Homo sapiens: one gene and its partners. The protein of the gene in region 3 purifies or fractionates together with the protein of the main gene of each other region. This does not show direct contact. Each region holds a gene or a part of one and is shown on either strand. Other genes may lie near its edges.

What was found.
Region 1: the proteins of EIF4G3 (region 3) and EIF4A1 purify together in Homo sapiens (co-immunoprecipitation; 7 studies listed by BioGRID and IntAct, with this or other methods). This does not show direct contact.
Region 2: the proteins of EIF4G3 (region 3) and EIF3B purify together in Homo sapiens (affinity purification with mass spectrometry; 3 studies listed by BioGRID and IntAct, with this or other methods). This does not show direct contact.

The regions. Positions count from the first base shown.
Region 1 is NC_000017.11:7,574,191-7,582,076, forward strand, and holds the end of EIF4A1 (eukaryotic initiation factor 4A-I), read left to right. Parts: intron 1-69; coding exon 70-118; intron 119-355; coding exon 356-488; intron 489-522; exon of another isoform or gene 523-657; intron 658-928; coding exon 929-1,068; intron 1,069-2,333; coding exon 2,334-2,502; intron 2,503-2,620; exon of another isoform or gene 2,621-2,768; intron 2,769-2,865; coding exon 2,866-2,975; intron 2,976-3,153; coding exon 3,154-3,297; intron 3,298-3,378; coding exon 3,379-3,516; intron 3,517-3,636; coding exon 3,637-3,726; intron 3,727-3,764; exon of another isoform or gene 3,765-3,901; intron 3,902-3,974; coding exon 3,975-4,054; intron 4,055-4,151; coding exon 4,152-4,296; 3' UTR 4,297-4,816; downstream 4,817-7,886. Other genes in the region: CD68 (macrosialin isoform A precursor), read left to right, coding at 5,488-5,536, 5,620-6,137, 6,276-6,395, 6,521-6,593, 6,706-6,876, 7,188-7,321. UniProt on the Homo sapiens protein: ATP-dependent RNA helicase which is a subunit of the eIF4F complex involved in cap recognition and is required for mRNA binding to ribosome.
Region 2 is NC_000007.14:2,369,634-2,380,837, reverse strand, and holds the end of EIF3B (eukaryotic translation initiation factor 3 subunit B), read right to left. Parts: coding exon 11,156-11,204; intron 9,062-11,155; coding exon 8,989-9,061; intron 8,166-8,988; coding exon 8,043-8,165; intron 6,311-8,042; coding exon 6,232-6,310; intron 5,450-6,231; coding exon 5,311-5,449; intron 3,889-5,310; coding exon 3,763-3,888; intron 2,150-3,762; coding exon 2,072-2,149; intron 1,705-2,071; coding exon 1,596-1,704; intron 1,445-1,595; coding exon 1,341-1,444; 3' UTR 1,327-1,340; intron 658-1,326; exon of another isoform or gene 635-657; 3' UTR 93-634; downstream 1-92.
Region 3 is NC_000001.11:21,166,898-21,173,897, forward strand, and holds part of EIF4G3 (eukaryotic translation initiation factor 4 gamma 3), read right to left. Parts: intron 1,143-7,000; exon of another isoform or gene 1,064-1,142; intron 1-1,063. UniProt on the Homo sapiens protein: Component of the protein complex eIF4F, which is involved in the recognition of the mRNA cap, ATP-dependent unwinding of 5'-terminal secondary structure and recruitment of mRNA to the ribosome. Functional homolog of EIF4G1.

The DNA of each region.
Region 1 (7,886 bases), on a different chromosome or scaffold from region 3:
AGCCCGGCTGTCAGGATTTCTGAGTGCTTCGGTCGGGCAGGGGACAAAACTTATGCTTTAAACCAACAGATCCAGAGACAATGGCCCCGATGGGATGGAGCCCGAAGGCGTCATCGAGGTGAGACTGGAGAAATGGAATTCTGTCCTCCCCCATTACAACTTTCAGCCGTATAGAGTTAGAGTGGCCTCTTGATTGATTTCCCAGATCATCTAGAAGCAGCTGGTTTCCCTAAAGGGAGGAGGGTTGTAAGCTCTGAGGCTTTTGTTAGTAGGCACCAGATTCTGTTTGCTCGGAGACTACAGCTCAGCTCCACCTTTTCCATGACTCAAGCTTTAATTTCTTTGCATCCCCTAGAGTAACTGGAATGAGATTGTTGACAGCTTTGATGACATGAACCTCTCGGAGTCCCTTCTCCGTGGCATCTACGCGTATGGTTTTGAGAAGCCCTCTGCCATCCAGCAGCGAGCCATTCTACCTTGTATCAAGGGTGAGACCTCTCAGTCCCAGAAGACATTGTGGACTGTCCCTGACCTGGGTAGAGTGGCATCTGGTTGGTGATGCCCATCTCATATCAGCCAGGGACAAAGCAACTCCTTGTTCATCCCAGCTTGGCTTTTGATCCGTGCCCATGCCTGGTTCATGCCTTGGACACATAGGTTTCCTTTAAAGAGGTGGTATTGTAGCCAGCTTATATTTGCATCTACAGCCATGTTTCTAGTCCAGCTTGGTGTGCAATACTAGATGAGTTAATAACTGGTCCTTGTTTCTGATCTGGTTCCCATTGTGTAACTGTGTTGATTGGGAAGGTAGTTTGTGAGCCATGAAATGCTTGGTTCATTGGTTGCTTATTGACCTCATTAACCTAGGACTTGAATATCCCAAAGGGTATGCTCTTTACCACATTCAACTCCTAATTTATTTGTTTAGGTTATGATGTGATTGCTCAAGCCCAATCTGGGACTGGGAAAACGGCCACATTTGCCATATCGATTCTGCAGCAGATTGAATTAGATCTAAAAGCCACCCAGGCCTTGGTCCTAGCACCCACTCGAGAATTGGCTCAGCAGGTAAGAGTGGCTTCTATTCCCTCCTTCAGGGCTGATTTAGGGATGATGAGTATAATCCAAGGACCAGAGAAGTCTTCTCTGATCACCACCTTGGGAGGAAGACATGGGTGCCCTAACACTCTCGAGACCTGCTGGGTTAATTAAAAGCTATTTCTTACCCAAACGTAACCATTGCTTCCTCCACCCATTTCCTGAGTCAAATGGGAAAGCTGTTGGGTGAAGCCTGGCTGGCTGGGCAAGTTTGACTGTGTTCTGAATAAGCACCTTCACTATGGGCTAAGAGATCCCTTGGTGTGGGGGTGATCTTACAGTAGTCAGAGCAGATGGACAGTCCTTTTCACCCTTGCTTAATAGCCAGAGCTGTTTCATGCCTGGGGCACACACAATTCTAATGCTGGACTTTTTCCTGGGTCATGCTGCAACACTGATGTCAGAGCATGTTTTTAAATGTTCTGTGGCAGGGGCAGTGATTATTCTGGGTGTGGATAATGTAAGAAGTTACAGCAGAGCTCCATTCTAAGGCACTTGGCTCTCAGTTTTCTCAGAGTGAACATGCCTCGTAGCTTGGGTCCTATGGCAGGAGTGCAATAGGACATGGATATGCATCACCTGTTCTATAAAACTGGTTGCTGGCTGGGTGTGGTGGCTCAACTCGTATAATCCCAACACTTTGGGAGGCCAAGGCAGGCAGATCTCTTGAGATCAGGAGTTGGAGACCAGCCTGGCCAACATAGTGAAACCCCGCTTCTACTAAAAATACAAAAATTAGCCAGGCATGGTGGCGTGTGCCTTTTATCCCAGCTACTCGGGAAGCTCAGGCAGGAGAATTTAACCCAGGAGGTGGAGGTTGCAGTGAGCTGAGATTGTGCCATTGCACTCCAGCCTGGGCAACGAGCAAAGCTCTGTCTCAAAAAAAGAAAAAAAAAATGGTTGCTGCGTGATGAGGCAGTTGGTCAAATTAGTTTTCAGAAGGTTAAGGGTTCTAAATATCTAGAGTAAAGAAACTGAATTAATTATCTGAGCGGCCTCATTGTGAATCACTGTACACTCAGGAACCAGACTGAGTTGAAATCCTGTCTTTGCCACCTATTGACAGCACGATCTTAAGTGGATTTTAGCCTCTGCCTGTTTCTCAGCTGAATGTGAGTTTAATAATAGTGCATGCCCCAAAGTTGTTGGTTAGGAATCAATACATGAAAAACATTTAAGAATGGTGCCGGGCACAGTGGTAACTGACATATGAGCACCTGCCTCTCTCTGCTCAGATACAGAAGGTGGTCATGGCACTAGGAGACTACATGGGCGCCTCCTGTCACGCCTGTATCGGGGGCACCAACGTGCGTGCTGAGGTGCAGAAACTGCAGATGGAAGCTCCCCACATCATCGTGGGTACCCCTGGCCGTGTGTTTGATATGCTTAACCGGAGATACCTGTGTGAGTAATTCGGTTCTCCAATCCCCTGGGTCACTTTGCTCTTGTGCACGCTTTCCAGTCTTTCAGCGTAAGCCAGAGTCATTCCCAAGGATGCTGGTTTCTCTCTGGGGGAAGAGCTGCTCTGTGATGGAGCCCATGCGTGTCATCTGAGCCTCTGGCTTCCCTGCCAGTGCAGCCCTGGCAGTGTCCTACTTCCCAGGGCTGTTGTCTGCCTGGCGGGAAGGTCCTGGGCAAAGGATCAGTCTTTGTACTCTGAGAGCAGACTACTTGGCTCCTCTCTGTTTTTTATCAGCGAAGTTGGATATATCTCTCCCACATTTCCCTAATCATATGCTATATATTGGCTTTTTTTTTCTTCTCTAGCCCCCAAATACATCAAGATGTTTGTACTGGATGAAGCTGACGAAATGTTAAGCCGTGGATTCAAGGACCAGATCTATGACATATTCCAAAAGCTCAACAGCAACACCCAGGTGAGGGCAGTCTTGCTTGAATAGCTAATGATTCTTGAAAAATAGTAAGTGCCAGGGGAACCATATACTGGATTCTTGAGCCTTTTTATGCATCTGCTTCAGTTTTAGGTGTGGCTAGGGAAGGGAGCAGGCCTCAGGAAGGAACCAGCACTCTAAGACTGGCCTTTTTTTCCACTAGGTAGTTTTGCTGTCAGCCACAATGCCTTCTGATGTGCTTGAGGTGACCAAGAAGTTCATGAGGGACCCCATTCGGATTCTTGTCAAGAAGGAAGAGTTGACCCTGGAGGGTATCCGCCAGTTCTACATCAACGTGGAACGAGAGGTGGGGCCCAGTGCAGGAGGCGGGCCTGGTAGTGAGTTGTTGGGTATAGCCCCTGACTGATTTTTGTCCCCCAACCTCCAGGAGTGGAAGCTGGACACACTATGTGACTTGTATGAAACCCTGACCATCACCCAGGCAGTCATCTTCATCAACACCCGGAGGAAGGTGGACTGGCTCACCGAGAAGATGCATGCTCGAGATTTCACTGTATCCGCCATGGTGTGTTTGCCCGCTGCCAGCCTGTTGTGGGTCTGCCCGTCAGAAGTGTCCTACTTGAAGCCAGGGTTCCTGGAACCCAGGTGCCTACCTGGTCTGCTGCATATTTGTTTTCTCTTCCAGCATGGAGATATGGACCAAAAGGAACGAGACGTGATTATGAGGGAGTTTCGTTCTGGCTCTAGCAGAGTTTTGATTACCACTGACCTGCTGGTGAGTAGAGGGAACTGATAGCAAAGGCAGAAGGGAGGATCCAAGGTGATTCCCTCTCCAAGGGGACATCAGTGCCTCTCAGGAAAGTAGCAGCTTGGAATAGAATCTGGCATGCCTAAGGCCTTTGGGGAACTGGGATGCTTATTTCCTCTGCCTTCCTTGGCTGCCCACATGGATGCCTAAGTGTCTTCCCTCCGGGATAGAGTGTCCTCCGTGCACATGCTGAAGAGTTGTCTTTCTTGACGTAGGCCAGAGGCATTGATGTGCAGCAGGTTTCTTTAGTCATCAACTATGACCTTCCCACCAACAGGGAAAACTATATCCACAGGTAAGCGTAGATCTGGAACACTCCCCTACCCCTTCACACCTGGCCCTCCCTGGGCTTAAAGCTCCTGATATTCCTCATCCCCTTCCTTGTTTTCCAGAATCGGTCGAGGTGGACGGTTTGGCCGTAAAGGTGTGGCTATTAACATGGTGACAGAAGAAGACAAGAGGACTCTTCGAGACATTGAGACCTTCTACAACACCTCCATTGAGGAAATGCCCCTCAATGTTGCTGACCTCATCTGAGGGGCTGTCCTGCCACCCAGCCCCAGCCAGGGCTCAATCTCTGGGGGCTGAGGAGCAGCAGGAGGGGGGAGGGAAGGGAGCCAAGGGATGGACATCTTGTCATTTTTTTTCTTTGAATAAATGTCACTTTTTGAGGCAAAAGAAGGAACCGTGAACATTTTAGACACCCTTTTCTTTGGGGTAGGCTCTTGCCCCAGGCGCCGGCTCTTCTCCCAAAAAAAAAAAAAAAACACTAATCCATTTCCCTAACCTAGTAACCTCCAGATCCCAGAGGCTCTCCTCACCTCAGCTGAGCTCCTTTGAAAGTGATTCAAGGGACTATGTCACTCAGCCTCATTTGCTGGACCAAATCTGGAGGGAGAACCCCTAAAACCCCTAAGTGAGGTTGCCCAGGGGGTTGTCCCCAGGTGGGGGGAAGCAGGGGAGAGAAAATGGTAGCCATTTTTACATTGTTTTGTATAGTATTTATTGATTCAGGAAACAAACACAAAATTCTGAATAAAATGACTTGGAAACTGCCTGTTTGGGCTTCTCATTTCTTACCTCCCCTTCCCTCTCCCACCTGCTACTGGGTGCATCTCTGCTCCCCCCTTCCCCAGCAGATGGTTACCTTTGGGCTGTTGCTTTCTTGTCACCATCTGAGTTCTCAGACGCTGGAAAGCCATGTTCTCGGCTCTGTGAATGACAATGCTGACTGGAGTGCTGCCCCTCTGTAAAGGGCTGGGTGTGGATGGTCACAAGCCCCTCACATGCCTCAGCCAAGAGGAAGTAGTACAGGGGTCAGCCCAGAGGTCCAGGGGAAAGGAGTGGAAACCGATTTCCCCACCAAGGGAGGGGCCTGTACCTCAGCTGTTCCCATAGCTACTTGCCACAACTGCCAAGCAAGTTTCGCTGAGTTTGACACATGGATCCCTGTGGATCAACTGCCCTAGGACTCCGTTTGCACCCATGTGACACTGTTGACTTTGCCCTGATGAAGCAGGGCCAACAGTCCCCTAACTTAATTACAAAAACTAATGACTAAGAGAGAGGTGGCTAGAGCTGAGGCCCCTGAGTCAGGCTGTGGGTGGGATCATCTCCAGTACAGGAAGTGAGACTTTCATTTCCTCCTTTCCAAGAGAGGGCTGAGGGAGCAGGGTTGAGCAACTGGTGCAGACAGCCTAGCTGGACTTTGGGTGAGGCGGTTCAGCCATGAGGCTGGCTGTGCTTTTCTCGGGGGCCCTGCTGGGGCTACTGGCAGGTAAGGAGGAAGGAGGCTGAGGGGAGGGGGCCCCTGGGAGGGAGCCTGCCCTGGGTTGCTAACCATCTCCTCTCTGCCAAAAGCCCAGGGGACAGGGAATGACTGTCCTCACAAAAAATCAGCTACTTTGCTGCCATCCTTCACGGTGACACCCACGGTTACAGAGAGCACTGGAACAACCAGCCACAGGACTACCAAGAGCCACAAAACCACCACTCACAGGACAACCACCACAGGCACCACCAGCCACGGACCCACGACTGCCACTCACAACCCCACCACCACCAGCCATGGAAACGTCACAGTTCATCCAACAAGCAATAGCACTGCCACCAGCCAGGGACCCTCAACTGCCACTCACAGTCCTGCCACCACTAGTCATGGAAATGCCACGGTTCATCCAACAAGCAACAGCACTGCCACCAGCCCAGGATTCACCAGTTCTGCCCACCCAGAACCACCTCCACCCTCTCCGAGTCCTAGCCCAACCTCCAAGGAGACCATTGGAGACTACACGTGGACCAATGGTTCCCAGCCCTGTGTCCACCTCCAAGCCCAGATTCAGATTCGAGTCATGTACACAACCCAGGGTGGAGGAGAGGTAAAGCTAAAACTGGGGGATGAGAGGGGAGGGAGGCAGGACTGGATATAGGCTCAGAGGGAAGAAGGAAGAGGGGACAGGGAACCTTGGCCGGCATCGCATGCAGTCTTGTGACCTTCCAGTCTTTAACTTCCGCAGGCCTGGGGCATCTCTGTACTGAACCCCAACAAAACCAAGGTCCAGGGAAGCTGTGAGGGTGCCCATCCCCACCTGCTTCTCTCATTCCCCTATGGACACCTCAGCTTTGGATTCATGCAGGTATAGCCATGACCTCAGTCTCACCCCTCACTCAGCCTCCCGGCGCCCCTCCCCTCCCAATCCCACACGCTACTCCTTCCTCTGTGGAGAGGGATACCACCTGCGCCTTCCTCTTCGCCCCACAGGACCTCCAGCAGAAGGTTGTCTACCTGAGCTACATGGCGGTGGAGTACAATGTGTCCTTCCCCCACGCAGCACGTAAGTAACCTCCTTCCCTTTCTCATTGCTACCACTAGACGCCAGGGTTCCTGAAAGGACTAAGCTGGGGCCAGGGAGGTGGATAGGATCTGACCCTTCCTCACTCCTCCAGAGTGGACATTCTCGGCTCAGAATGCATCCCTTCGAGATCTCCAAGCACCCCTGGGGCAGAGCTTCAGTTGCAGCAACTCGAGCATCATTCTTTCACCAGCTGTCCACCTCGACCTGCTCTCCCTGAGGCTCCAGGCTGCTCAGCTGCCCCACACAGGGGTCTTTGGGCAAAGTAAGACCTACCTACTCCTTCCCTCCTAGAATCCTCCCACTGCACTGAAAACCCCTTCCCCAGGCCCATAAGCCACTCATCTCTCTTCTTAACCCCCCAAATCTCGCTCTCCCAGCTTGTCATGGCTACAGGGCAGCTTTCTTTCCATCCTCTACAAGACTCTGCCAGTTTCCCCCTTTTATCACTGCTGAGTCACTGCGGTGAGCTCCTCACCAATCTCCTACTCCCCAGCATCCCCCCATTCCCTCCTCCCACCTTTATCCCAACCAGCACGTCACTGCAAATACCTACCTGCCCTATCCTTCCGCCAGGTTTCTCCTGCCCCAGTGACCGGTCCATCTTGCTGCCTCTCATCATCGGCCTGATCCTTCTTGGCCTCCTCGCCCTGGTGCTTATTGCTTTCTGCATCATCCGGAGACGCCCATCCGCCTACCAGGCCCTCTGAGCATTTGCTTCAAACCCCAGGGCACTGAGGGGGTTGGGGTGTGGTGGGGGGGTACCCTTATTTCCTCGACACGCAACTGGCTCAAAGACAATGTTATTTTCCTTCCCTTTCTTGAAGAACAAAAAGAAAGCCGGGCATGACGGCTCATGCCTGTAATCCCAGCACTTTGGGAGGCTGAGGCAGGTGGATCACTGGAGGTCAGGAGTTTGAGACCAGCCTGGCCAACATGGTGAAACCCTGTCTCTACTAAAAATACAATTAGCCAGGTGTGGCGGCGTAATCCCAGCTGGCCTGTAATCCCAGCTACTTGGGAGGCTGAGGCAGAACTGCTTGAACCCAGGAGGTGGAGGTTGCAGTGAGCCGTCATCGCGCCACTAAGCCAAGATCGCGCCACTGCACTCCAGCCTGGGCGACAGAGCCAGACTGTCTCAAATAAATAAATATGAGATAATGCAGTCGGGAGAAGGGAGGGAGAGAATTTTATTAAATGTGACGAACTGCCCCCCCCCCCCCCCCAGCAGGAGAGCAGCAAAATTTATGCAAATCTTTGACGGGGTTTTCCTTG
Region 2 (11,204 bases), on a different chromosome or scaffold from region 3:
CTGGCTTGGCAAGCAGGCCCTTGCCACTGGGGAGGGAGGCAGGCACCAAGTTCAAGGTCTCTATCTACATTCAAAGAGAGGAGAAAGACCGGTTTTTCATACAAGTTTGCTTTTATTTCCATGTTCAACCTGCGGAGAAAACCGGCCACAACCTGCACGGTGGGGGTACAAGGCATGGCGGCGCCCTCCCGGTGGGTCTCCGGGACACGTCCAGCACTGCCCGCAATGGGGATGCAAGTCCTTCAACGGAAATGCTGCTCGGCTGTGTACAGGCACCGTGGAAACATCACTGGGCGCAGGAGAAGGTGCCGCCAGTGGCGTCGCTAAGTCTTCGGAGCCAACGCCGGCGGTTCCAACAGAAAACTCCAAACAAGAAAGAAGTGGAAGCGGGTGCCTTAAATCCCCCACTGCAGACACCAGGGGCTGAAAGGCACAAAAATGTGTCGCAATGGCAGAATCCAGGCGCAGTCACAGTCCAGAGCCAGAGAGCACAGGGAGGAGGCGGGAGTCACGCGGCTTCCTGCAGGACGGCCTCGGCTCCACAGCACACACGGCTGCGCTGCAACAGAGGAACCGCGGCTCACACTCGGGAGTCCTGTAGCTCAGCGCGGGAACAGCAGGCGGAGTCCGTCCCCTGGATAGACAGGCATGGCGGCCCTAAACGGCACCACCTCAAAAGGCTGAGGGACCCCCTGAACATCGCCTTGGGGCTGACGTTGAGTCCCGCAAGAGGAGCCACCCCGGCCACAGAGAGCTGAGCCCGTGTGCCACCCCTACTCGCTCATGGTCCCACCCTGGGGGGACAGCAACCAGGCCACCCTCAGGCACCCCATTAGGCCTTCTGTCCCACATGTGCCCATGCTGTGAGGCGCGGAGGCCCCCAGGACTCAGGAGCTCCCGCACTCTGCTCCCCAGCCCCCGACTTGGAAGGCTCTTGTCTCAGAACTGCTGAAACCACAGTCACAGCCGTGCACGCCAGTGTTTCTTTCCAGTGGACACACCGCGGCCGTCACTAGCACAGGTATCAGGAAATGGCCAGGCATGGCCACCCTCCTCTTCCTGGCACTTCCCAACACCTGGCCACAGCTCCTCCCTCACCCAGCACTGCCTGAAAGGCGCCATCTGCAATGTGGTCAGAGGGCGCAGTCGAGGCCACGTCGGCACCGACTCTACATTTCACACGAGGCTCAGCTAACCCTGGGCACATGACACTAGGGCTTCACCCTTCACCCCTGCCTTAAAGGAGGTGCTTCCTCAGTGACGGGGATAACTGAAGCAGCATGAGCAGCCAACAGGACCCCCATCGCGCCCCCTGCAGACGCTCACCACAGTGCTCCAGGTCACTCCTGATTCCCGAGGGGAATGATTTCTTCAGTGACGAAGAACTCAATGGTCTCCTCTTCCCAGTCGTCCACGTTGCTGTCCAGCTCGTCAGTGTCCACCCCTGAGGGGACAAAGGGCGCAGATCACCCATGGGGGCACATGCCTAGTGGCACCGCCGAGGCCAGTGGGAAGGAACGCAGGAGTCCGCGGGCACCAGGGCCCAGGGGCAGCGTAAGGGCCAGCTCCTGGGGACTGAGGGATCTCTAAGTTACCTCCTCGCAACTCCAGGCGCTCGTTTTTCTGCTCCATATAGAGCTCCTGGGCCATTTTCCGGTACTTCCGGAAATCTTCCATCATGGTGCGCCTTCTCTCCACCAATTCCTATGCATGAGGTTGGGGAAAGCACAGAACTGGTAAGACAAGTGCCTCCCCATCGCGAAGAGCCCACACCCAGGCGGACGGTGCCAGAAGGACAGCATACAGAGGCACTCAAGCAGGAATGGCTAGTCCATTCATTCTCACTTTTCCCCCAACGCTGCCCCCCACCCACAAGGCAGCAGTGAGGTCACCAACTCCAAGTCCCCGTGCCAACCCCAGTTCCCCAGTGCATCCCTCCTGGGGGGGAACAGAACCAGTGTCTTCGGAGCAGAGGCAACTCTGAGCACATACACAGCAGCTCCCCGCAGCCCCGCCTTTGCCATGATGGCGGATGTCACAGCACAGCCCTCATTTTGGGAATGAGGCTCACCTTTGAGGCTTTGGACTGACTCAAACGATCCTTCTGTTCAAAGATCTTAGAGTATTTCTTCAGATCCTTTTTAATTTGCTGAAACAAAAGACCCATCACTCAGGATTTAACATTCAAAGCAACAAGCACAAATGCAATCTTCAGAGTTGCCAACATGACATGACACCCAAAGCCATTCACAGAACACAGCTTCCCAGGAGCGCTCGCATGCTCCTTTCTCCATGACACCCAGGGTCATTCACACAACACAGCTTCCCAGCAGCACTCGCGCCTGCTCCTTCCTCCATGACACCCAGGGTCATTCACACAACACAGCTTCCCAGGAGCGCTCGCGCCTGCTCCTTCCTCCATGACACCCAGGGTCATTCACACAACACAGCATCCCAGGAGCGCTCGCCTGTTCCTTCCTCCATGACACCAAGGGTCATTCACACAACACAGCATCCCAGGAACGCTCGCCTGTTCCTTCCTCCATGACACCGAGGGTCATTCACACAACACAGCATCCCAGCAGTGCTCGCGCCTTCTCCTTCCTCGACACCCAGGGTCATTCACACAACACGGCTTCCCAGGAGCGCTCGCGCCTGCTCCTTCCTCCTTGACACCCAGGGTCATTCACAGAACACGGATTCCCAGGAGAGCTCGCGCCTGCTCCTTCCTCCATGACACCCAGGGTCATTCACAGAACACAGCATCCCAGGAGCGCTCGTGCCTGCTCCTTCCTCCATGACACCCAGGGTCATTCACAGAACACAGCATCCCAGGAGAGCTCGCGCCTGCTCCTTCCTCCATGACACCCAGGGTCATTCACAGAACACGGCATCCCAGCAGTGCTCGCGCCTTCTCCTTCCTCGACACCCAGGGTCATTCACACAACACGGCTTCCCAGGAGCGCTCGCGCCTGCTCCTTCCTCCTTGACACCCAGGGTCATTCACAGAACACGGATTCCCAGGAGAGCTCGCGCCTGCTCCTTCCTCCATGACACCCAGGGTCATTCACAGAACACAGCATCCCAGGAGCGCTCGCGCCTGCTCCTTCCTCCATGACACCCAGGGTCATTCACAGAACACAGCATCCCAGGAGCGCTCGCGCCTGCTCCTTCCTCCTTGACACCCAGGGTCATTCACAGAACACGGATTCCCAGGAGAGCTCGCGCCTGCTCCTTCCTCCATGACACCCAGGGTCATTCACAGAACACAGCATCCCAGGAGCGCTCGTGCCTGCTCCTTCCTCCTTGACACCCAGGGTCATTCACACAACACAGCATCCCAGGAGCGCTCGTGCCTGCTCCTTCCTCCATCTTTCACTTTGAGACGGACTTTCTCCCTGGGATTTAACCCTCCTCTTTGCTCTGACCTAAGACCAACGGCCTATTTTACCACAATAATGTAAATCCCAGACAAGCCGCTTCTAATCCCAGCAGGACTTTTTAATGGCCCTGGCATCTTTTTATCCACCCCTCGGGTTCATGCAAAACTTCCCTAAAGAAGCTGAAAGCCTCAAGTTACTATCCTAAAGCTGTTCTATTCCATTCAGTTCTCACTGTTCCTGCGTCTCTTCAAAGAATCCTTGCAAATGTCACGTTTTTATCCCCCAGTCACCACCCTAACAATAACAGAAAAAACTGACACCTTTTCAACGCCACAATTGCCTCCATGTGCCCTGCACCCGGGGGTGGGGGCATGCTGACCTTGATCTGTTCCTGGCTCAGGAGTGTGGGAGGCCGGGGCCGCCACAGCAGCTGGCAGAAGCGGTCCTTGTTGTTCTTCTGCAGGAGGCGTCCCTGGAAAGTCCACAGCCAGTACGCGTTGTCCACCTAGGCCAGGGCAGGGACACACCAGGACACAGAGGGGTCAGAGAGCCACAACCGTGACTATGTCACTTGCTGAACAAGGTCCTGGGTATCGGGGACACGTGTGAAGCAAACAAAGCTCTGCCTGTGCTGAGCTGACAGCAGGGTAGGTGGGCAGTCAATGCAAGACACCTCCATTATGCAACCGACCCGGAGTGCGGGGCACGGAGCAGCTGGAGCAGCGCTCATCACAGCACAGGCCTGCACATTCTGGCTGGCAATAAGAACCCCATGCTGGATGTAAGCTAACTGCCTCACTACTGCGCCGCTGAACCCCGTGCTGGATTTAAACTGGACTGAACCCTGTGCCAAACGTAAGCTAACTGCATAGCACTACTCACTGCTGAGCCCTGGGCCGGGTGTGAGCTGTGCGGAGCCCTGTGCTGGATGTAAGCTAACTGCATCACTACACGCCGCCTAGTTCCGCTCTCCTCATGGCAGGCCTCTCTCATGAAGGAGGGCGCCTTCACTGGCACTCAGCATAAACTCCTTGTTGCAGGCCGGCATTTTGGAAGCTAAGTGTTCATAACTCAAGGAGAGTGGTCAACAGCTTAAAAAGTCTTTTTTTTTTTTTTTTTTTTAATGGGGCTAGGGTTTCGCTATGTTGCTCAGGCTAGTCTCAAACTCCTGGGTTCAAGTGATTTTTCTACCTCTGCCTCCTGAAGTGCTGGGATTACAGGTGTGAGCCACTGTGCCTGGCCTAAAGTGATTTCAAGTGTCAAGGCAGGCCCCACCGCAGTGACATCTGAACATACCTGGACACAGGCTGTGATCAACATATCCTGATTCGAATGCGAAGATTTCTAACTCTAGACACTTGCAGTAACATTTGGGAAGTTGATATTCCTACAAATTCTGTATCTCATTAAACAAAATTACCCGCGTTTGGTTTCACAGGCTCTATTGGCATGGACTAGTTCAAGTATCAGTGCCTCCATCAATGTTTTTACAAGTCACTAAATACTGAAAGTCCTTGACAAACTTAACCAGCAGTTTTGGAATACGAGTTGTGGGTAACGCGGCAGCTGGACTCAACCACTGACCCCAAAACAGATCTTAATGTCTGCGGTTATGGAACTCTGTTCAGACTTCAAAGGAAACGACTCCTCTCTGCAGACATTCTCACTCCTTTTCAGGGGTCCCTGGGCCCAGGGTAAGACCCCCCACCTCCCCGCAACCATGAGCAGGGGCTGCTCCTGCACTCGGCGCCACCTCTTCTACAACCCAGAATCCTCCTCCTCCTGCCACTAACACCAGCCAAGGCTTCTGTTCAACACAGAGGCTTGGTGCCCCTTCCCTGAGGTCCCAGGACAGCACCAGAGTCAGCAGCTAGCCAGCACTCCCTGCTTCTATCCACAGTCAAAACTATGCCCCACAGGCCTGCACCTTATGGCTCCACCAGGACACAGAGGTGACGACGTAGCGCCCAGTAGGATCCCATTCGACGTCGGAAGCCATGTAGTGCTCTGCGATGTTCATGACCGTGCAGTCCGAAGTGTCCACAAACGCTAAGGCACCGTTCATACTGCAAAGACAGACAGGACCGTCAGGCTTCATGGAGACGCATACCTCCTGGCATCCCACTCCTGAGAGGTGCTGCGGCATGGGGTCCCCAGGGAGCCAGCCTCGGCGTTAACATGGAAACAAGCACAGCAACAGCCTCTGGTGGCCGCTGTGAGACTTACCAAATCACAGATGCAGAGTGTGCAGTGAGTATTACATATGACTGCCATCATATTATTTTTACTGGAAATGTTATCTGAGGCTAAGTAAGCCTCCAAAAATACAGTAGCAAGTGTGGACAATGAAGCAAGGGAGAGCAGCAACAAAAGGGTATTCTTTTAACTCAGAGCAGAAAGCTGGAAGCTTCTCCATGATTTCGACACACTGCTGGAACACAGCTGAGACCGACACCGTGACACCAACCACAAAGGTAAGGCAGCCTCACAGCTGTGTAACGAATACCCTTCCCACTAGAAGACAAGGGACTGACCCCCGGGGGGAGGTTACTGGATGGCTGGAAGGCACTTGTTTAACCACAGAGAACCACAACCCGCAGACAGGTCTGCCTGGTCACTTCACGAAAGCATCTGGGAGCGCTTATTTCACTCTGTGCGGGCTTGGCCTGAGTCCTGGAGTACCGTGGGTCTGCAGAGGTTCAATGAAGTCCTATCCACTGACACTGGGGCAACCCTTTCAGCGCACAATACTCTCTCTACCAAGAAGCCGGGTGCAGGCGCCTGAGGGGTCTCTGCCACAGCAGAGCGCTACTCACAGGGCGGACAGGCTCAGAGCGCAGACACCTACCTCCTCAGGCCCGCCAACACCACGAACTGTCCTTGGGGGCTCCAGAAGATGGTGTTCGCCTGCTGCTTGTCGAACATCTCTGAAAGGAAAGAGCGCGCCTGTCACGAGCTGCGAGGGCTTCCACAGTGCCGGGGCAGCCAAGGCTGGAGGACTTGGCCGTGCTCATGCTGCCCATGAGGGCAGAGCTGGTAATGCTGGACCACCTCGGAAAACAATTTTACAAAGTCCATCGCCAAGTACCCCCTAAGTCATGATCCATACTTTAAATGGGAAAAAAAAGAAGATGCGACAGGGGTATTTCAAAACAATACTATCTTATTTCCTGAGGTAACTGGACAAAGAATTCCCTTTACAGCAAATGTTCACTGCTGCAGGGACCCCAACAGAGAGATGTCAGAGACGTGTGACCCCAAAAGACCAAAGCCACTCTCCTAGCGACAAGGCGTCTTTGGATAAGCTGTATGCTTGTTGAAACTGACTACAGTCATCATCTTTGCAGGTACTAACTCTTACTTCCGGAATGGATCTCGGGCAGAGCCGCTGGAACAGTGAGAAGTGAAGGCCAGCTGGGGCTGGCTCAAGTCCCCCTCAGAGCATATGCTCCCTGCATCTCAAACAGAGCTGACAACCTGTGGCCTCTCTCCCCTCAGCCTGTGGTACATCCAAAAAAGAGGCATGGGGCAGGCTGACGTGGGGAGGAGGGGAGGAGATGTGGGAGGGCAGTGCACCCTGGCAGGGGCAGGGGTCTCAGACTTGCACAAGCGAAAACCCCAACAGCCACGGGCATGGGATGGAGCCCATGCGGTGGCCCCAGCGTCCATGCCAAACCTCAGGAGAGGCGTGTCACGCAGCATGTTTGGAAGGTACAAGGTGCCTCTGCTTGCCTATGTTTTATGACCTAGAAGACTTACACAAGTCTCTGGACAGTCTGCAATTGCCCATATGTTTCTATCAACCAGAATTAATGAAACAGCCAATCTTGTAATCCACTGCCAACTGAGGGCACCACGCACCCTGCCAAGCTCTAGCAAAGTGAAAACTAAACTCCTCACAGAATCATGCTGCGAAAGGTGCGGCCAGGAGATTCCAACCCCTTCCTGGTACAGAGCCAAACCCATGGCTCTGCAGGAGGGCAGCTGGCAGCCAGAGTCCTGTGTGAGGAACACAGCCCATCGCCACCTCCTGGCTACCACACACACACACCCCACGCCTATGAAGCAACAAGCAATGGCTCATTCAATCCCCGCGGGCACCGGGCTCTGTGCTGAGCAGAGACCCCAGGATGAAGTGAGGAGCTGAGGGCACAGGCAGCAGGTGCCGTGAGACAGGCGAGGGCCCACGCACCACTGTGAGGAGCGAGCCCCAGGTGGGTGCAGTGTGGCACCCCTGGAACCGGGTGCACGGGGGCAGAGTACAGCTGTGTGCAACAGCTCTGCGCACCCTGGTCAAAGGCACCTGACCCAGACTGGGGACTGGCAGGAGTATGTCCACAGGAAGTGACCCCAAGCCCAGGGACAGCAGCTACAGCCAGAAGAGAAAAAGCTTCACTTGAGATGATGGCAGAGAATGGAAGCCTTGGAAATACTCGCTTAAACGTGAGGGCTCAACGGGGCTCAGAGAGACACCCTGCAAGGAGGCGGCACCTCCAGGCCATCGCTCACTTCCATCAGCCGAGGCCACACCCCATTCATAGGCGAGTCCCGGCCTGCCCAGCAGTGGTCCTAGGCCAGTCAAATGCTCACTGTTGGGCAGCGACTGGGTCATCATCTGTGCTGACCTACTCAGAAGAGGAAAGGGACCAGGTTACTTACTGATGAGTTCAATCTTCCCGTTGTTTTTGACGTGGTAGAAAGACACAGATATCCGCGGAGCCTCTCCGTGCAGCACAGCAAACTTACTTCCATTTGGTTCCCAGGCAAAGGCTATGATGGTTTCTAAAATGCACAAAACAGACCCCTCCCTTTTTGGTCAATTCAGAACATAGTGCTCTTGATCAGTTAAAATGTTCACTATTCAACCACAGAGAAATATCCCCCGACGTGTAAAAGTTCATTAAAAGGACGGGAGAGCAAGCAACAGCAGGAAAGGTGCACATTCCTGGAGTTTCAGAGACAGCTGCTTCCACTTGTGTGGAGTGACCTACGTGAAACTGCTCCCTTCCTGAGAGCAGGACACCCACAGCAGGACCGCAGGAGCCCGACATTGTCAGCAGCTGTGGATGCCGCTTCCCTCGCACCCAGTGTGCACCTACAGTGGGATCCTGACCTCCGGTCTCCCTGCCTGGAAGGGCGGCCATGTTTCCCATTTTCTCACCTATTTTTAACCCTTCCTTCCTCCTTTTCTCCATGGCAAAACAAAAAGCCAAACAAGAACACAGGCTCAATCTCTTTTCTCTTTTTTTTAGACAGGGTCTTGCTCCGTCACCCAGGCTGGAGTGCAGGGGCGCAATCTCAGTTCACTGCAACCTCTGCTCCTGGGCTCAAGTGATCCTCCCGCTTCAGCGTCTCAAACAGCTGGGACTATCGGTGCGCACCACCACACCTGGCTAATTTTTTTTATTTGTTTTTTGTACAGAGAGGGTCTCACTATGTTGCCCAGGCTCTAAACACGTTCTGTGACCTGGAGATGACTATTCATGGTGAGGGCTCACAGTCCTGACTCAGCTGCTCAGACAACCCCTCGCATGGAAGTGTTAAAGCCAAGAGTAAAACAGCACGTAGGCCCCATTCGCCTCAAAGTGACTAAAATACAACTTGCCTTTCATCTCGACCACATCCACAGGTACCTGTTTCTCCCTCATTCGGAAAATTTCAAAATTTGTGACAACACCCTGTTTAAAAAAAAGGGGGAAGGGGTGACATTCTGGACAGTGAAAATATGAGAAAAGGTTTAAATCAAAGATCAACGTCACAATGAAAGATTCAGTGTGCATGCCTGGTTCACACACGAGCATGTGCAGTGATGAAAGCCACAGCCCTCAGGATGGAAGACGGTTCTAAGGCTGGAGAACTGCCGGCACCACGTCTACTGGAAGCCACTGGACATGCATGAAGTAACTCTGACCCAGATCCCACCTCCAGGAGCCGCCCTGCCCGCCACACTTGGGCACAAGCAGTCCCAGGGTCCACACTGCAGGCTGCAGGCCAGGGTCCTGAGGGCCCTAAAGGCACACCAATGGGGCTGGGTAAACCACTTCAGACAGTGGGGTGTCCTGTAGCCATAACCTTCAAGAAGTCCTGCCCTACTCGAGGAGTCTGAGGGAAAACTGCCCTGATGTCCATCAACAGAGGAAGGAGGCCAAGAAACGGGGTCCACCCAACAAGAGATTACTGCTGACACTCAGCACCGTGGACCAGCTGTGGGAACGCTGTGCTCCGTGAAGGAGGTCAAACACAGAAGGTGGCATAGTATCCGATTCCAGCTGTGTGTTCAGAATAGGGAAATCATAGACATTCGTGATGCCAGGAGCTGGGCGGAGAGGCTGCTAACAGGTATGTTGTTTCTTTGTAGGGTGACAAAAACATTTATTTATTTATTTATTTTTGAGACGGAGTCTCACTCTGTTGCCCAGGCTGGAGTGCAGTGGTGCAATCTCGGCTCACTGCAAGCTCCGCCTCCCGGGTTCACGCCATTCTCCTGCCTCAGCCTCCCGAGTAGCTGGGACTACAGGCACCCGCCACCACGCCTGGCTAATTTTTTGCATTTTTAGTAGAGACGGGGTTTCTACTAAACCCTCGATCTCCTGACCTTGTGATGCCCCGCCTCAGCCTCCCAAAGTGCTGGGATTACAGGCGTGAGCCACCGTGCCCGGCCTTTTTCCTATCTTTTAAAAATTATCTGTGGAGATGGGGTCTCACTGTGTTTCCCAGGCTGGTCTGAAACTCCTAGCCTCAAGCTATCCTCCCTCCCACCCCGGGGGAGCCACCGCACCCAGCCGATGAAAACGTTCTGAAATGAGTGGTGGTGGCTGCATAACTCTGAACACACGAAAAACCACTGAACCAGTTCACCACTCTAAAGGGGTGTTTTCAGGCATGTGAACTACATGTCAATTAAAGCTTTCTTAACATAAAAGAAAGAAGAATACTTCTATTAGAGGGAAAACTCAGGAATTTCTTTTTTTTTGTGAGACGCAGTCTGGCTCTGTCGCCAGGCTGGGGTGCAGTGGCGCAATCTCGCTCTGTTCACTGCAAGCTCTGCCTCCTGGGTTCAAGCGATTCTCCTGCCTCAGCCTCCCGAGTAGCTGGGACTACAGGAGCCTCCCACCACGCCCAGCTAATTATTGTACTTTTAGTAGAGATGGGGTTTCACACCACGTTGGCCAGAATGGTCTCAATCTCTTGACCTCATGATCCGCCCACCTCGGCCTCCCAAAGTGCTGGGATTACAGGCATGGGCCACTACACCCAGCCAACTCAGGCAATTTTTTGATAAAATAAATATTAAATGATCAACCACCAAAAATAAAAAAATAAAAAAATAAATCTTGAGTATACTACTCCTTGTGCTTAGAAAGAAAATAATATTCTCAGCCAGGCACGGTGGCTCACGCCTGTAATCCCAGCCCTTTGGGTGGCCAAGGCGGGCAGATCACCTAAGGTCAGGAGTTCAAGACCAGCCTGGCCAACATGGTGAAACCCTGTCTCTAATAAAAATACAAAAATTAGCCAAGCGTGGTGGTGGACGCCTATAGTCCCAGCTACTTGGGAAGCTGAGGCAGAAGAATCATTTGAAACCAGGAGGCAGAGACTGCAGTGAGCCGAAATCGCACTCCTGCACTACAGCCTGGTGACAGAGTGAGACTCCATCTCAAAAAAAAAAAAAAAAAAAAAAAAAAAAAATCCATTAACACCCTCCAAACAATACGGTGGCCACTTCAGAGCTCAGGATAAGGAATCGTCAGTTCCTGTGGGAATCTACATACCTGGGTGCCTTTCGGAGTCCTATCTACTTTCACACACAAGTAGTCTCCG
Region 3 (7,000 bases):
TAGCCTCCCAAGTAGCTGGGACTACAGGCACGTGCAACCGCGCCTGGCTAATTTTTGTATTTTCTGTAAAGACGGGGTTTTGTCATGTCATCCAGGATGGTCTCAAACTCCTGAACTCAAGCAATCCACCCACCTTGGGCTCCTGAAGTGCTGGGATTACAGGCCATGAGTCACTGCACCTGGCCAAGTTCTCCGACCAAGTTCTATTTCTTACATACTAATTACTAGGACCTAGAAAAAAGGTCAGGAATCATCTCATTTAACCTTCAAGGTTCAGTCCTTTCCATTCTCAATGTAAAAATAGTATTCTGGTTTAAAACTGGCTGTGTTCATTTTCTATTCCCACTTAATTTTCTCTCCTTATTCCAAAATTATGTTTGTTCCCACACTTCAATCCTCTTTCCCTCATCCCGCATGAATCCCTGTGGTCTTTTCCTCCTTCCTTCAATCACTCCTCATGATACTAACACTTCCTGAAAACCAACTAAATGCCAGACGCGATGGCTCACGCCTGTAATCCCAGCACTTTGGGAAGCTGAGGCAGATGGATCACCTGAGATGAAGAGTTCGAGACCAGCCTGGCCAATATATAAATACACTAGGTGCAGTGGCTCACGTCTGTAATCCCAGTACTTTGGAAGGCCAAGGTCAGGAGTTCAAGACCAGCCAGGCCAATATGGTGAAACCCTGCCTCAACTAAAAATACAAAAATTAGCCAGGCGTGGTGCCGGGTGCCTGTAATCCCAGCTACTCAGGAGGCTGAGGCAGGGGAACCGCTTGAACCCGGGAGGTGGAGGTTGCAATGAGCCAAGATCACAACACTGCAATCCAGCCTGGGCAACAGAGTGAGACTCCGTCACAAAGAAAAAAAAAATTAGGACTCTGGCTCCCAGCCTTTTTTAAAAACTTAGTATACTTGAACATATAAAGATGAACTTAAAGAGATAATAAAGAAATGTAAATAATTGTATGGGAAAAAAACTTGTGATGTTACACTGAGTTTTAATCTTGCAAATAATGCAAAACATTACAGGAACAATAACTCAAAAGATGTTTGACTTACTGATAAAGGTTTGAACATTCCCCTTTGTAATGTGCAGTCATAACTTCTAAGCTAAAAGCCAAAGGTGAAAAAATATTCCCAAGAAAAGCATTCCAAATAAACAAAAAGTTCACTTATATTTCAAGTAGATACAGAATAAAACTATTCAAGAAGTATCTCTTGGCTGGGTGTGGTGGCTCACGCCTGTAATCCCAACACTTTGGGAGGCTGAGGTGGGCAGATCACTTGAGGTCAGGAGTTTGAGACCAGCCTGGCCAACATGGTGAAACCCCGTCTCTACTAAAAATACAAAAAATTAGCCGGTCGTGGTGGAGGGCACCTGTAATCCCAGCTACTCAGGAGGCTGAGGCAGGAGAATTGCTTGACCCGGGAGGCCAAGGTTGCAGTGAGCTGAGATCGTGCCACTGCACTCCAGCCTGGGTGACAGAGCGAGGCTCCGTCTCAATTTTTTAAAAAAAAAAAGTATCTCTTTTTATTTTTGGGGGACAGTCTTGCCCTTTCACCCAGGCTGGTGTGCAATCACACAATCAGGTCTCACTACAGCCTTGACCTCCCGGGCTCAAGCAATCCTCCGGCCTCAGCCTCCTGAGTAGCAGGGACTACAGGCATGCACTGCCACTCCTGGCAAACTATTTTTTAATTTTTATTAGAGATGGGGTCTCACTATGTTGCCCAGGCTGGTCTCAAATTCCTAGACTCAAGTGATCCTCCTGCCCCAGCCTCCCAAAGTACTGGGATTACAGGCATGAACCACCACACCTGGCCAAAAAAAGTACTTTTCATGGCAGATACTTAGGTAGCAAATTAAGCAAGATACAAAACTAGGTACATAATCTGACTTTATGTTACAAAAATGTATGACCACTAATATTAAAATCCACAGAAAAAAAAAAATCAGGACAGAAATACACCAAAATGTTAAAAGTGGTTATCACAGCTACACACTGGGACACATGCCTGTAATCCCAGAACTTTGGGAGGCCAAGGTGAGCAGGTGGCTTGAGCCCAAGAGTTCGAGACCAGCCTGGGTAACATGGCAAAACCCCATCTCTACAAAAAAATTAGCTAGGTGTGGTGGCACACACCTGTGGTCCGAGCTCCTTGGGAGGCTGAGGTGGGAGGATTGCTTGAGCCCAGGAGGTCAAGGCTGTAGTGAGCCATGACCATGCCCTGGGAGGTAGAGTAAGACCCCACCTCTTTAAAAAAGTGGCAAGGCGCGGTGGCTCACACCTGTAATCCCAGCACCTTGGGAGGCCGAGGTGGGCAGATCACCTGAAGTCAAGAGTTCGAGACCAGCCTGGCCAACATGGTGAAACCCCACCTCTACCCAAAATACAAAAATTAGCTGCGTATAATGGCATGCACCTGTAATCCCAGCTACTTGGGAGGCTGAGGCAGAATTGTTTGAACCCGGGAGGCAGAGGTTGCAGTGACCCAAGATTGTGCCACTGCACTCCAGCCTGGGAAACAGGGCAACACTCTCTCCCCCCAAAAAAATAAATAAATAAAATAAAATAAAATAAAAGGGGTTGTCTCCACTAATAAGATTATGAGTGATTTTTTACTTTTCTATATTTTTCCAAATTTCTCATTTAATTATGTCTTGCTCTTATAATCATAAGTTTTTAATAATAATATTTGACTACAGATGTTGTTCCTCTTTGGCCTTCATACCAACCCTAATCCTCAGTATCAATATGTACTTCAAATACAACTCAGGCACTTCAGATGGCTTTGTAAACTGGGTCAATGCTATTCCATCTGAAAGGAAATTACAGAATTATTTTCAATTCAATTATACATCCCTGCAAAATAATTTGAGGGCAGCTTTGAATGCTGTAAGTGAGTTGTGATGCCATCTATATTAATCCTAAAACTTATCTTCAAATTGATTCCCAAAGTCCAACACACTTTTTATTTAATAAATATTTACAGGCCAGGCACGGTGGCTCAAGCCTGTAATCCCAGCACTTTGGGAGGCCAAGGCAGGCGGATCACAAGATCAGGAGATTGAGAACATCTTGACCAACATGGTGAAACCCCGCCTCTACTAAAAATACAAAAATTAGCCAGGCGTGGTGGTGCACGCCTGTAGTCCCAGCTACTCTAGAGGCTGAGGCAGGAGAATCACTTGAATCCAGGAGGCGGAGGTTGAAGTGAACTGAGATTGTGCCACTAGCACTCCAGCCAGGGCGACAAGAGTGAAACTCCATCTCAAAAATAAATAAATAAACAAACAAACAAACAAACAAACAAATAAATTTACAGACTGCCTACTGTCTGTCAAGCAGTATTCTAGGTGCTAGCAATTCCACAGTGAACAAAATAAACAAAAATCTCTGCCTTCATGGAGTTTACATTCTATTAACAAAATTCAATGTCTTATAAAGTCAGGCAGCACACAGTGGGCTCAAAAAAGTACACAACAGGCCAGGTGTGGTGGCTCATGCCTGTAATCCCAGCACTTTGGGAGGCTGAGATGGGTGGATCACTTGAGGTCAGGAGTTCGAGAACAGCCTGGCCAACATGGTAAAACCCCACCTGTACCCCACATACAAAAATTAGATGGGTGTGATGGCGCGCACCTGTAATCCCAGCTACTCAGGAAGCTAAGGCAGGAGAATCACTTGAACCCAGGAGGTGGAGGATGCAGTGAGCCGAGACTGCGCCACTGCACTCCAGCCTGGGCGACAGAGACTCTGTCTCAAAAAAAAGTACAAAACAATTATTAGTTAATAAAGATCATGGTAGAGCATAGTAGCTAACACCCGTAATCCCAGCACTTGGGGAGGTCAAGGTGGATGGATCATTTGAAGTCAGGAGTTCAAGAGCAGCCTGGCCAACATGGCAAAATCCATCTCTACTAAAAATACAAAAATTAGCTAGGTGTGGTGGTACACACCTGTAATCCCAGCTACTTGGGAGGCTGAGGCATGAGAATCACTTGAACCCAGGAAGCAGAGGTTGCAGTGAGCCAAGATCACACTCCAGCCTGGGTGACAGAGCAAGTCCCTGTCTAAAAAAATAAATTAAAAAAAAAAAAAGTCGTAAAAACCAACAAATTTCAAATGCACTTAAAATAGTTTAACTTTCTCAAATTTCAGCTGAGCTACAGGAGATTGAAAAATTCCTTTGGTTGGCAGCAAGCCAAAGAACTGGAAGCCATTTGAGAATTCAGAAGTCGCTTGGGATCCTGCAATATCTCATCCGTGTAAGTCTCAGCTGCAGTTTATCCATTGCTTAAAGTCATATGCGTGGCTAATAATCAGGAACTAGTTACTTTCCTATTATATTAGCTCAAAGTATTATTCCTTAGGTAAAAATAGATTGTGTCTCACCACAGCACCACGGGAGTTTATTCCAGAACTTACTTTCCCTCATATCTCATAATGAACTAACTGTATCATCACCCAGAACAAGCCAGCAAATGACCATGGCAACCTTATTTTATGGTCTCCCACTATCTCACAACTAACTATACAGTCTTCACCACTGAAGTTAGAGAGGTGCTTCTGTCTCTGTGGCTGAATCTAACATTAACAAGCCAAAAACCAGAAGTAGCTTATATGAGCAAACTGCTGCTTTGCCTCTGCCTCTGCCCCATGTTAGTATCTTCTAATATCAATAAGCCACCACAGAACATGTCACTTACCATCAGACAAAGAAAACATTAACTGGTTTCTGTAAATCCCTCCTCTCCACTTGCAAGAATAACACAAATCTCAAAAGACAATCATAAGCAATTATAATTCAAGAAGGTCACTGAATAAATGAGTCTAGACCCTACATTTCAGAGAAGGGATAACCAATGCCTGAAGCAGTTGCATGGTTAGTCTAAGATAAGATATCTACTACAATGAAAGAGCCAAACTCAAAACCAGATTTTTTGCCTCCAAATCAGGTACACTTCTCAATACACCAAGGTAAATCTACTTCTATTTTAAGACTAGCAAGTACTGTTTCTAAGCCAAAGTCTAGTATTAAAAGGGCAAGGATATTACGAGATGCACTGGGAAGGAGACCAGGAAAAGACCCACCACAGATCAGATCAGGTATGTATCTCCTTCTCATACACTAATTCCTTAGATTATGATACAGAAAATACTTTGAATTTTTAGCTTGTGTTTGACTGTCACTTTCTCTGGTACCTCCTCTAGCAAAAAAAAAAAAAAAAAAAAGCCTGAAACGTGACTGAAATCCATTTATTAAAATTCTATGGAGCAGCAATGGAATTGGAAAAAGCAGGCCGGCAGAAGAGAAAGCTATGTAAACCTGGGTTAATTCTTACTCATTCTTCTAATTTAGCTGAGATGTCAACTTCTTTTAGAAAGCCTTAATTCCTCCTTCCCCAGACTACTCTCACAGCAGAGTTATCAGTTATCACTGTACTTGCCTCATGACGTTTTGTTTACCCACCTCTAACCAAAAGGACCAAGTTCTTTGAGGGCAAAGATTTCTACCTTAGCTCTTCAATCCTACATCTAGCACTGAGTGTAGCAGCACACAGTGGATGCTGAATTAATGAATTCATAAACTTGCCACATCTATTGAAGCCTCAATATAAATGGCAAAATGTGGCAATCCTATTTATTTATTTATTTATTTATTGAGATGGAGTCTCGCTGTCACCCAGGTTGGAGTGCAGTAGAGCGATCTCGGCTCACTGCAATCTCCGCCTCGCGGGTTCACGCCATTCTCCTGCCTCAGCCTACCAAGTAGCTGGGACTACAGGCGCCTGCCACCACGCCTGGCTAATTTTATGTATTTTTAGTAGAGACGGGGTTTCACCGTGTTAGCCAGGATGGTCTCGATCTCCTGATCTCATGATCTGCCCACCTCGGCCTCCCAAAGTGCTGGGATTACAGGAATCCTCTCCATTGACTTAAGATGTGGTTCTCGGCCGGGTGCAGTGGCTCACGCCTGTAATCCCAGCACTTTGGGAGGTAGAAGCAGGCGGATCACAAGGTCAGGAGATCAAGACCATCCTGGCCAACACAGTGAAACCCCGTCTCTACTAAAATACAAAAAATTAGCCAGGCATGGTGGCGCACACCTGTAGTCCCAACTACTCAGGAGGCTGAGGTAGGGGAATCGTTTGAACCCAAGAGGCGGAGGTTGCAGTGAGCCAAGATCATGCCACTATACTCCAGCCTGGCAACAGAGCGAGACTCAATCTCAAAAAAAAAAAAAAAAAAAAAAAAAAAAGACGTGGGTTCCAAACATTTTCTAGAAGACCTTTGATTTTGTTTTTTTTGAGGTGGAGTCTCACTCTGTAACCCAGGCTGGAGCGCAGTGGTGCAGTCTCGGCTCATTGCAACTTCTGCCTCGTGGGTTCAAGCGATTCTCCTGCCTTGGCCTCCTGAGTAGCTGAAATTACAGGCAGGCGCCACCACGCCCGGCTAATTTTTGTACTTTTAGTAGAGACCAGGTTTCACCAGATCAGGGCCAGGTGCGGTGGCTCAATGCCTGTAATCCCAGCACTTTGGGAGGCTGAGGCAGGCGGATCACCTGAAGCCAGGAGTTCGAGACCAGCCTGGTCAACATGGTGAAACCCAGTCTGATCACGCCTTACAAAAAATTACCTGGACCTGGTGGCACACGCCTGTAATCCCAGCTACTCAGGAGGCTGAGGCATGAGAATGGCTGGAATCCAGCCGGCGTAGGTTGCAGTGAGCCGAGATTACACCACTGCACTCCAGCCTGGGCGACAAAGCAAGACTCTGTCTCAAAAATAAATAAATAAAACTGTCTGAACTTATTAATTCAATGCAAACACAACTATACCCACATACTTTGAGGGTCTGGAGATCTATTCAAGCCATGAACAGTGCTAACTCCAGCTATGCACTCCTGCCAAGATGCTTAAATGTTATCCACTTATTGAACAATGACCACTTGCGTCAAATACAAATTCCCATACTCCCTCAGGGTAGAAAA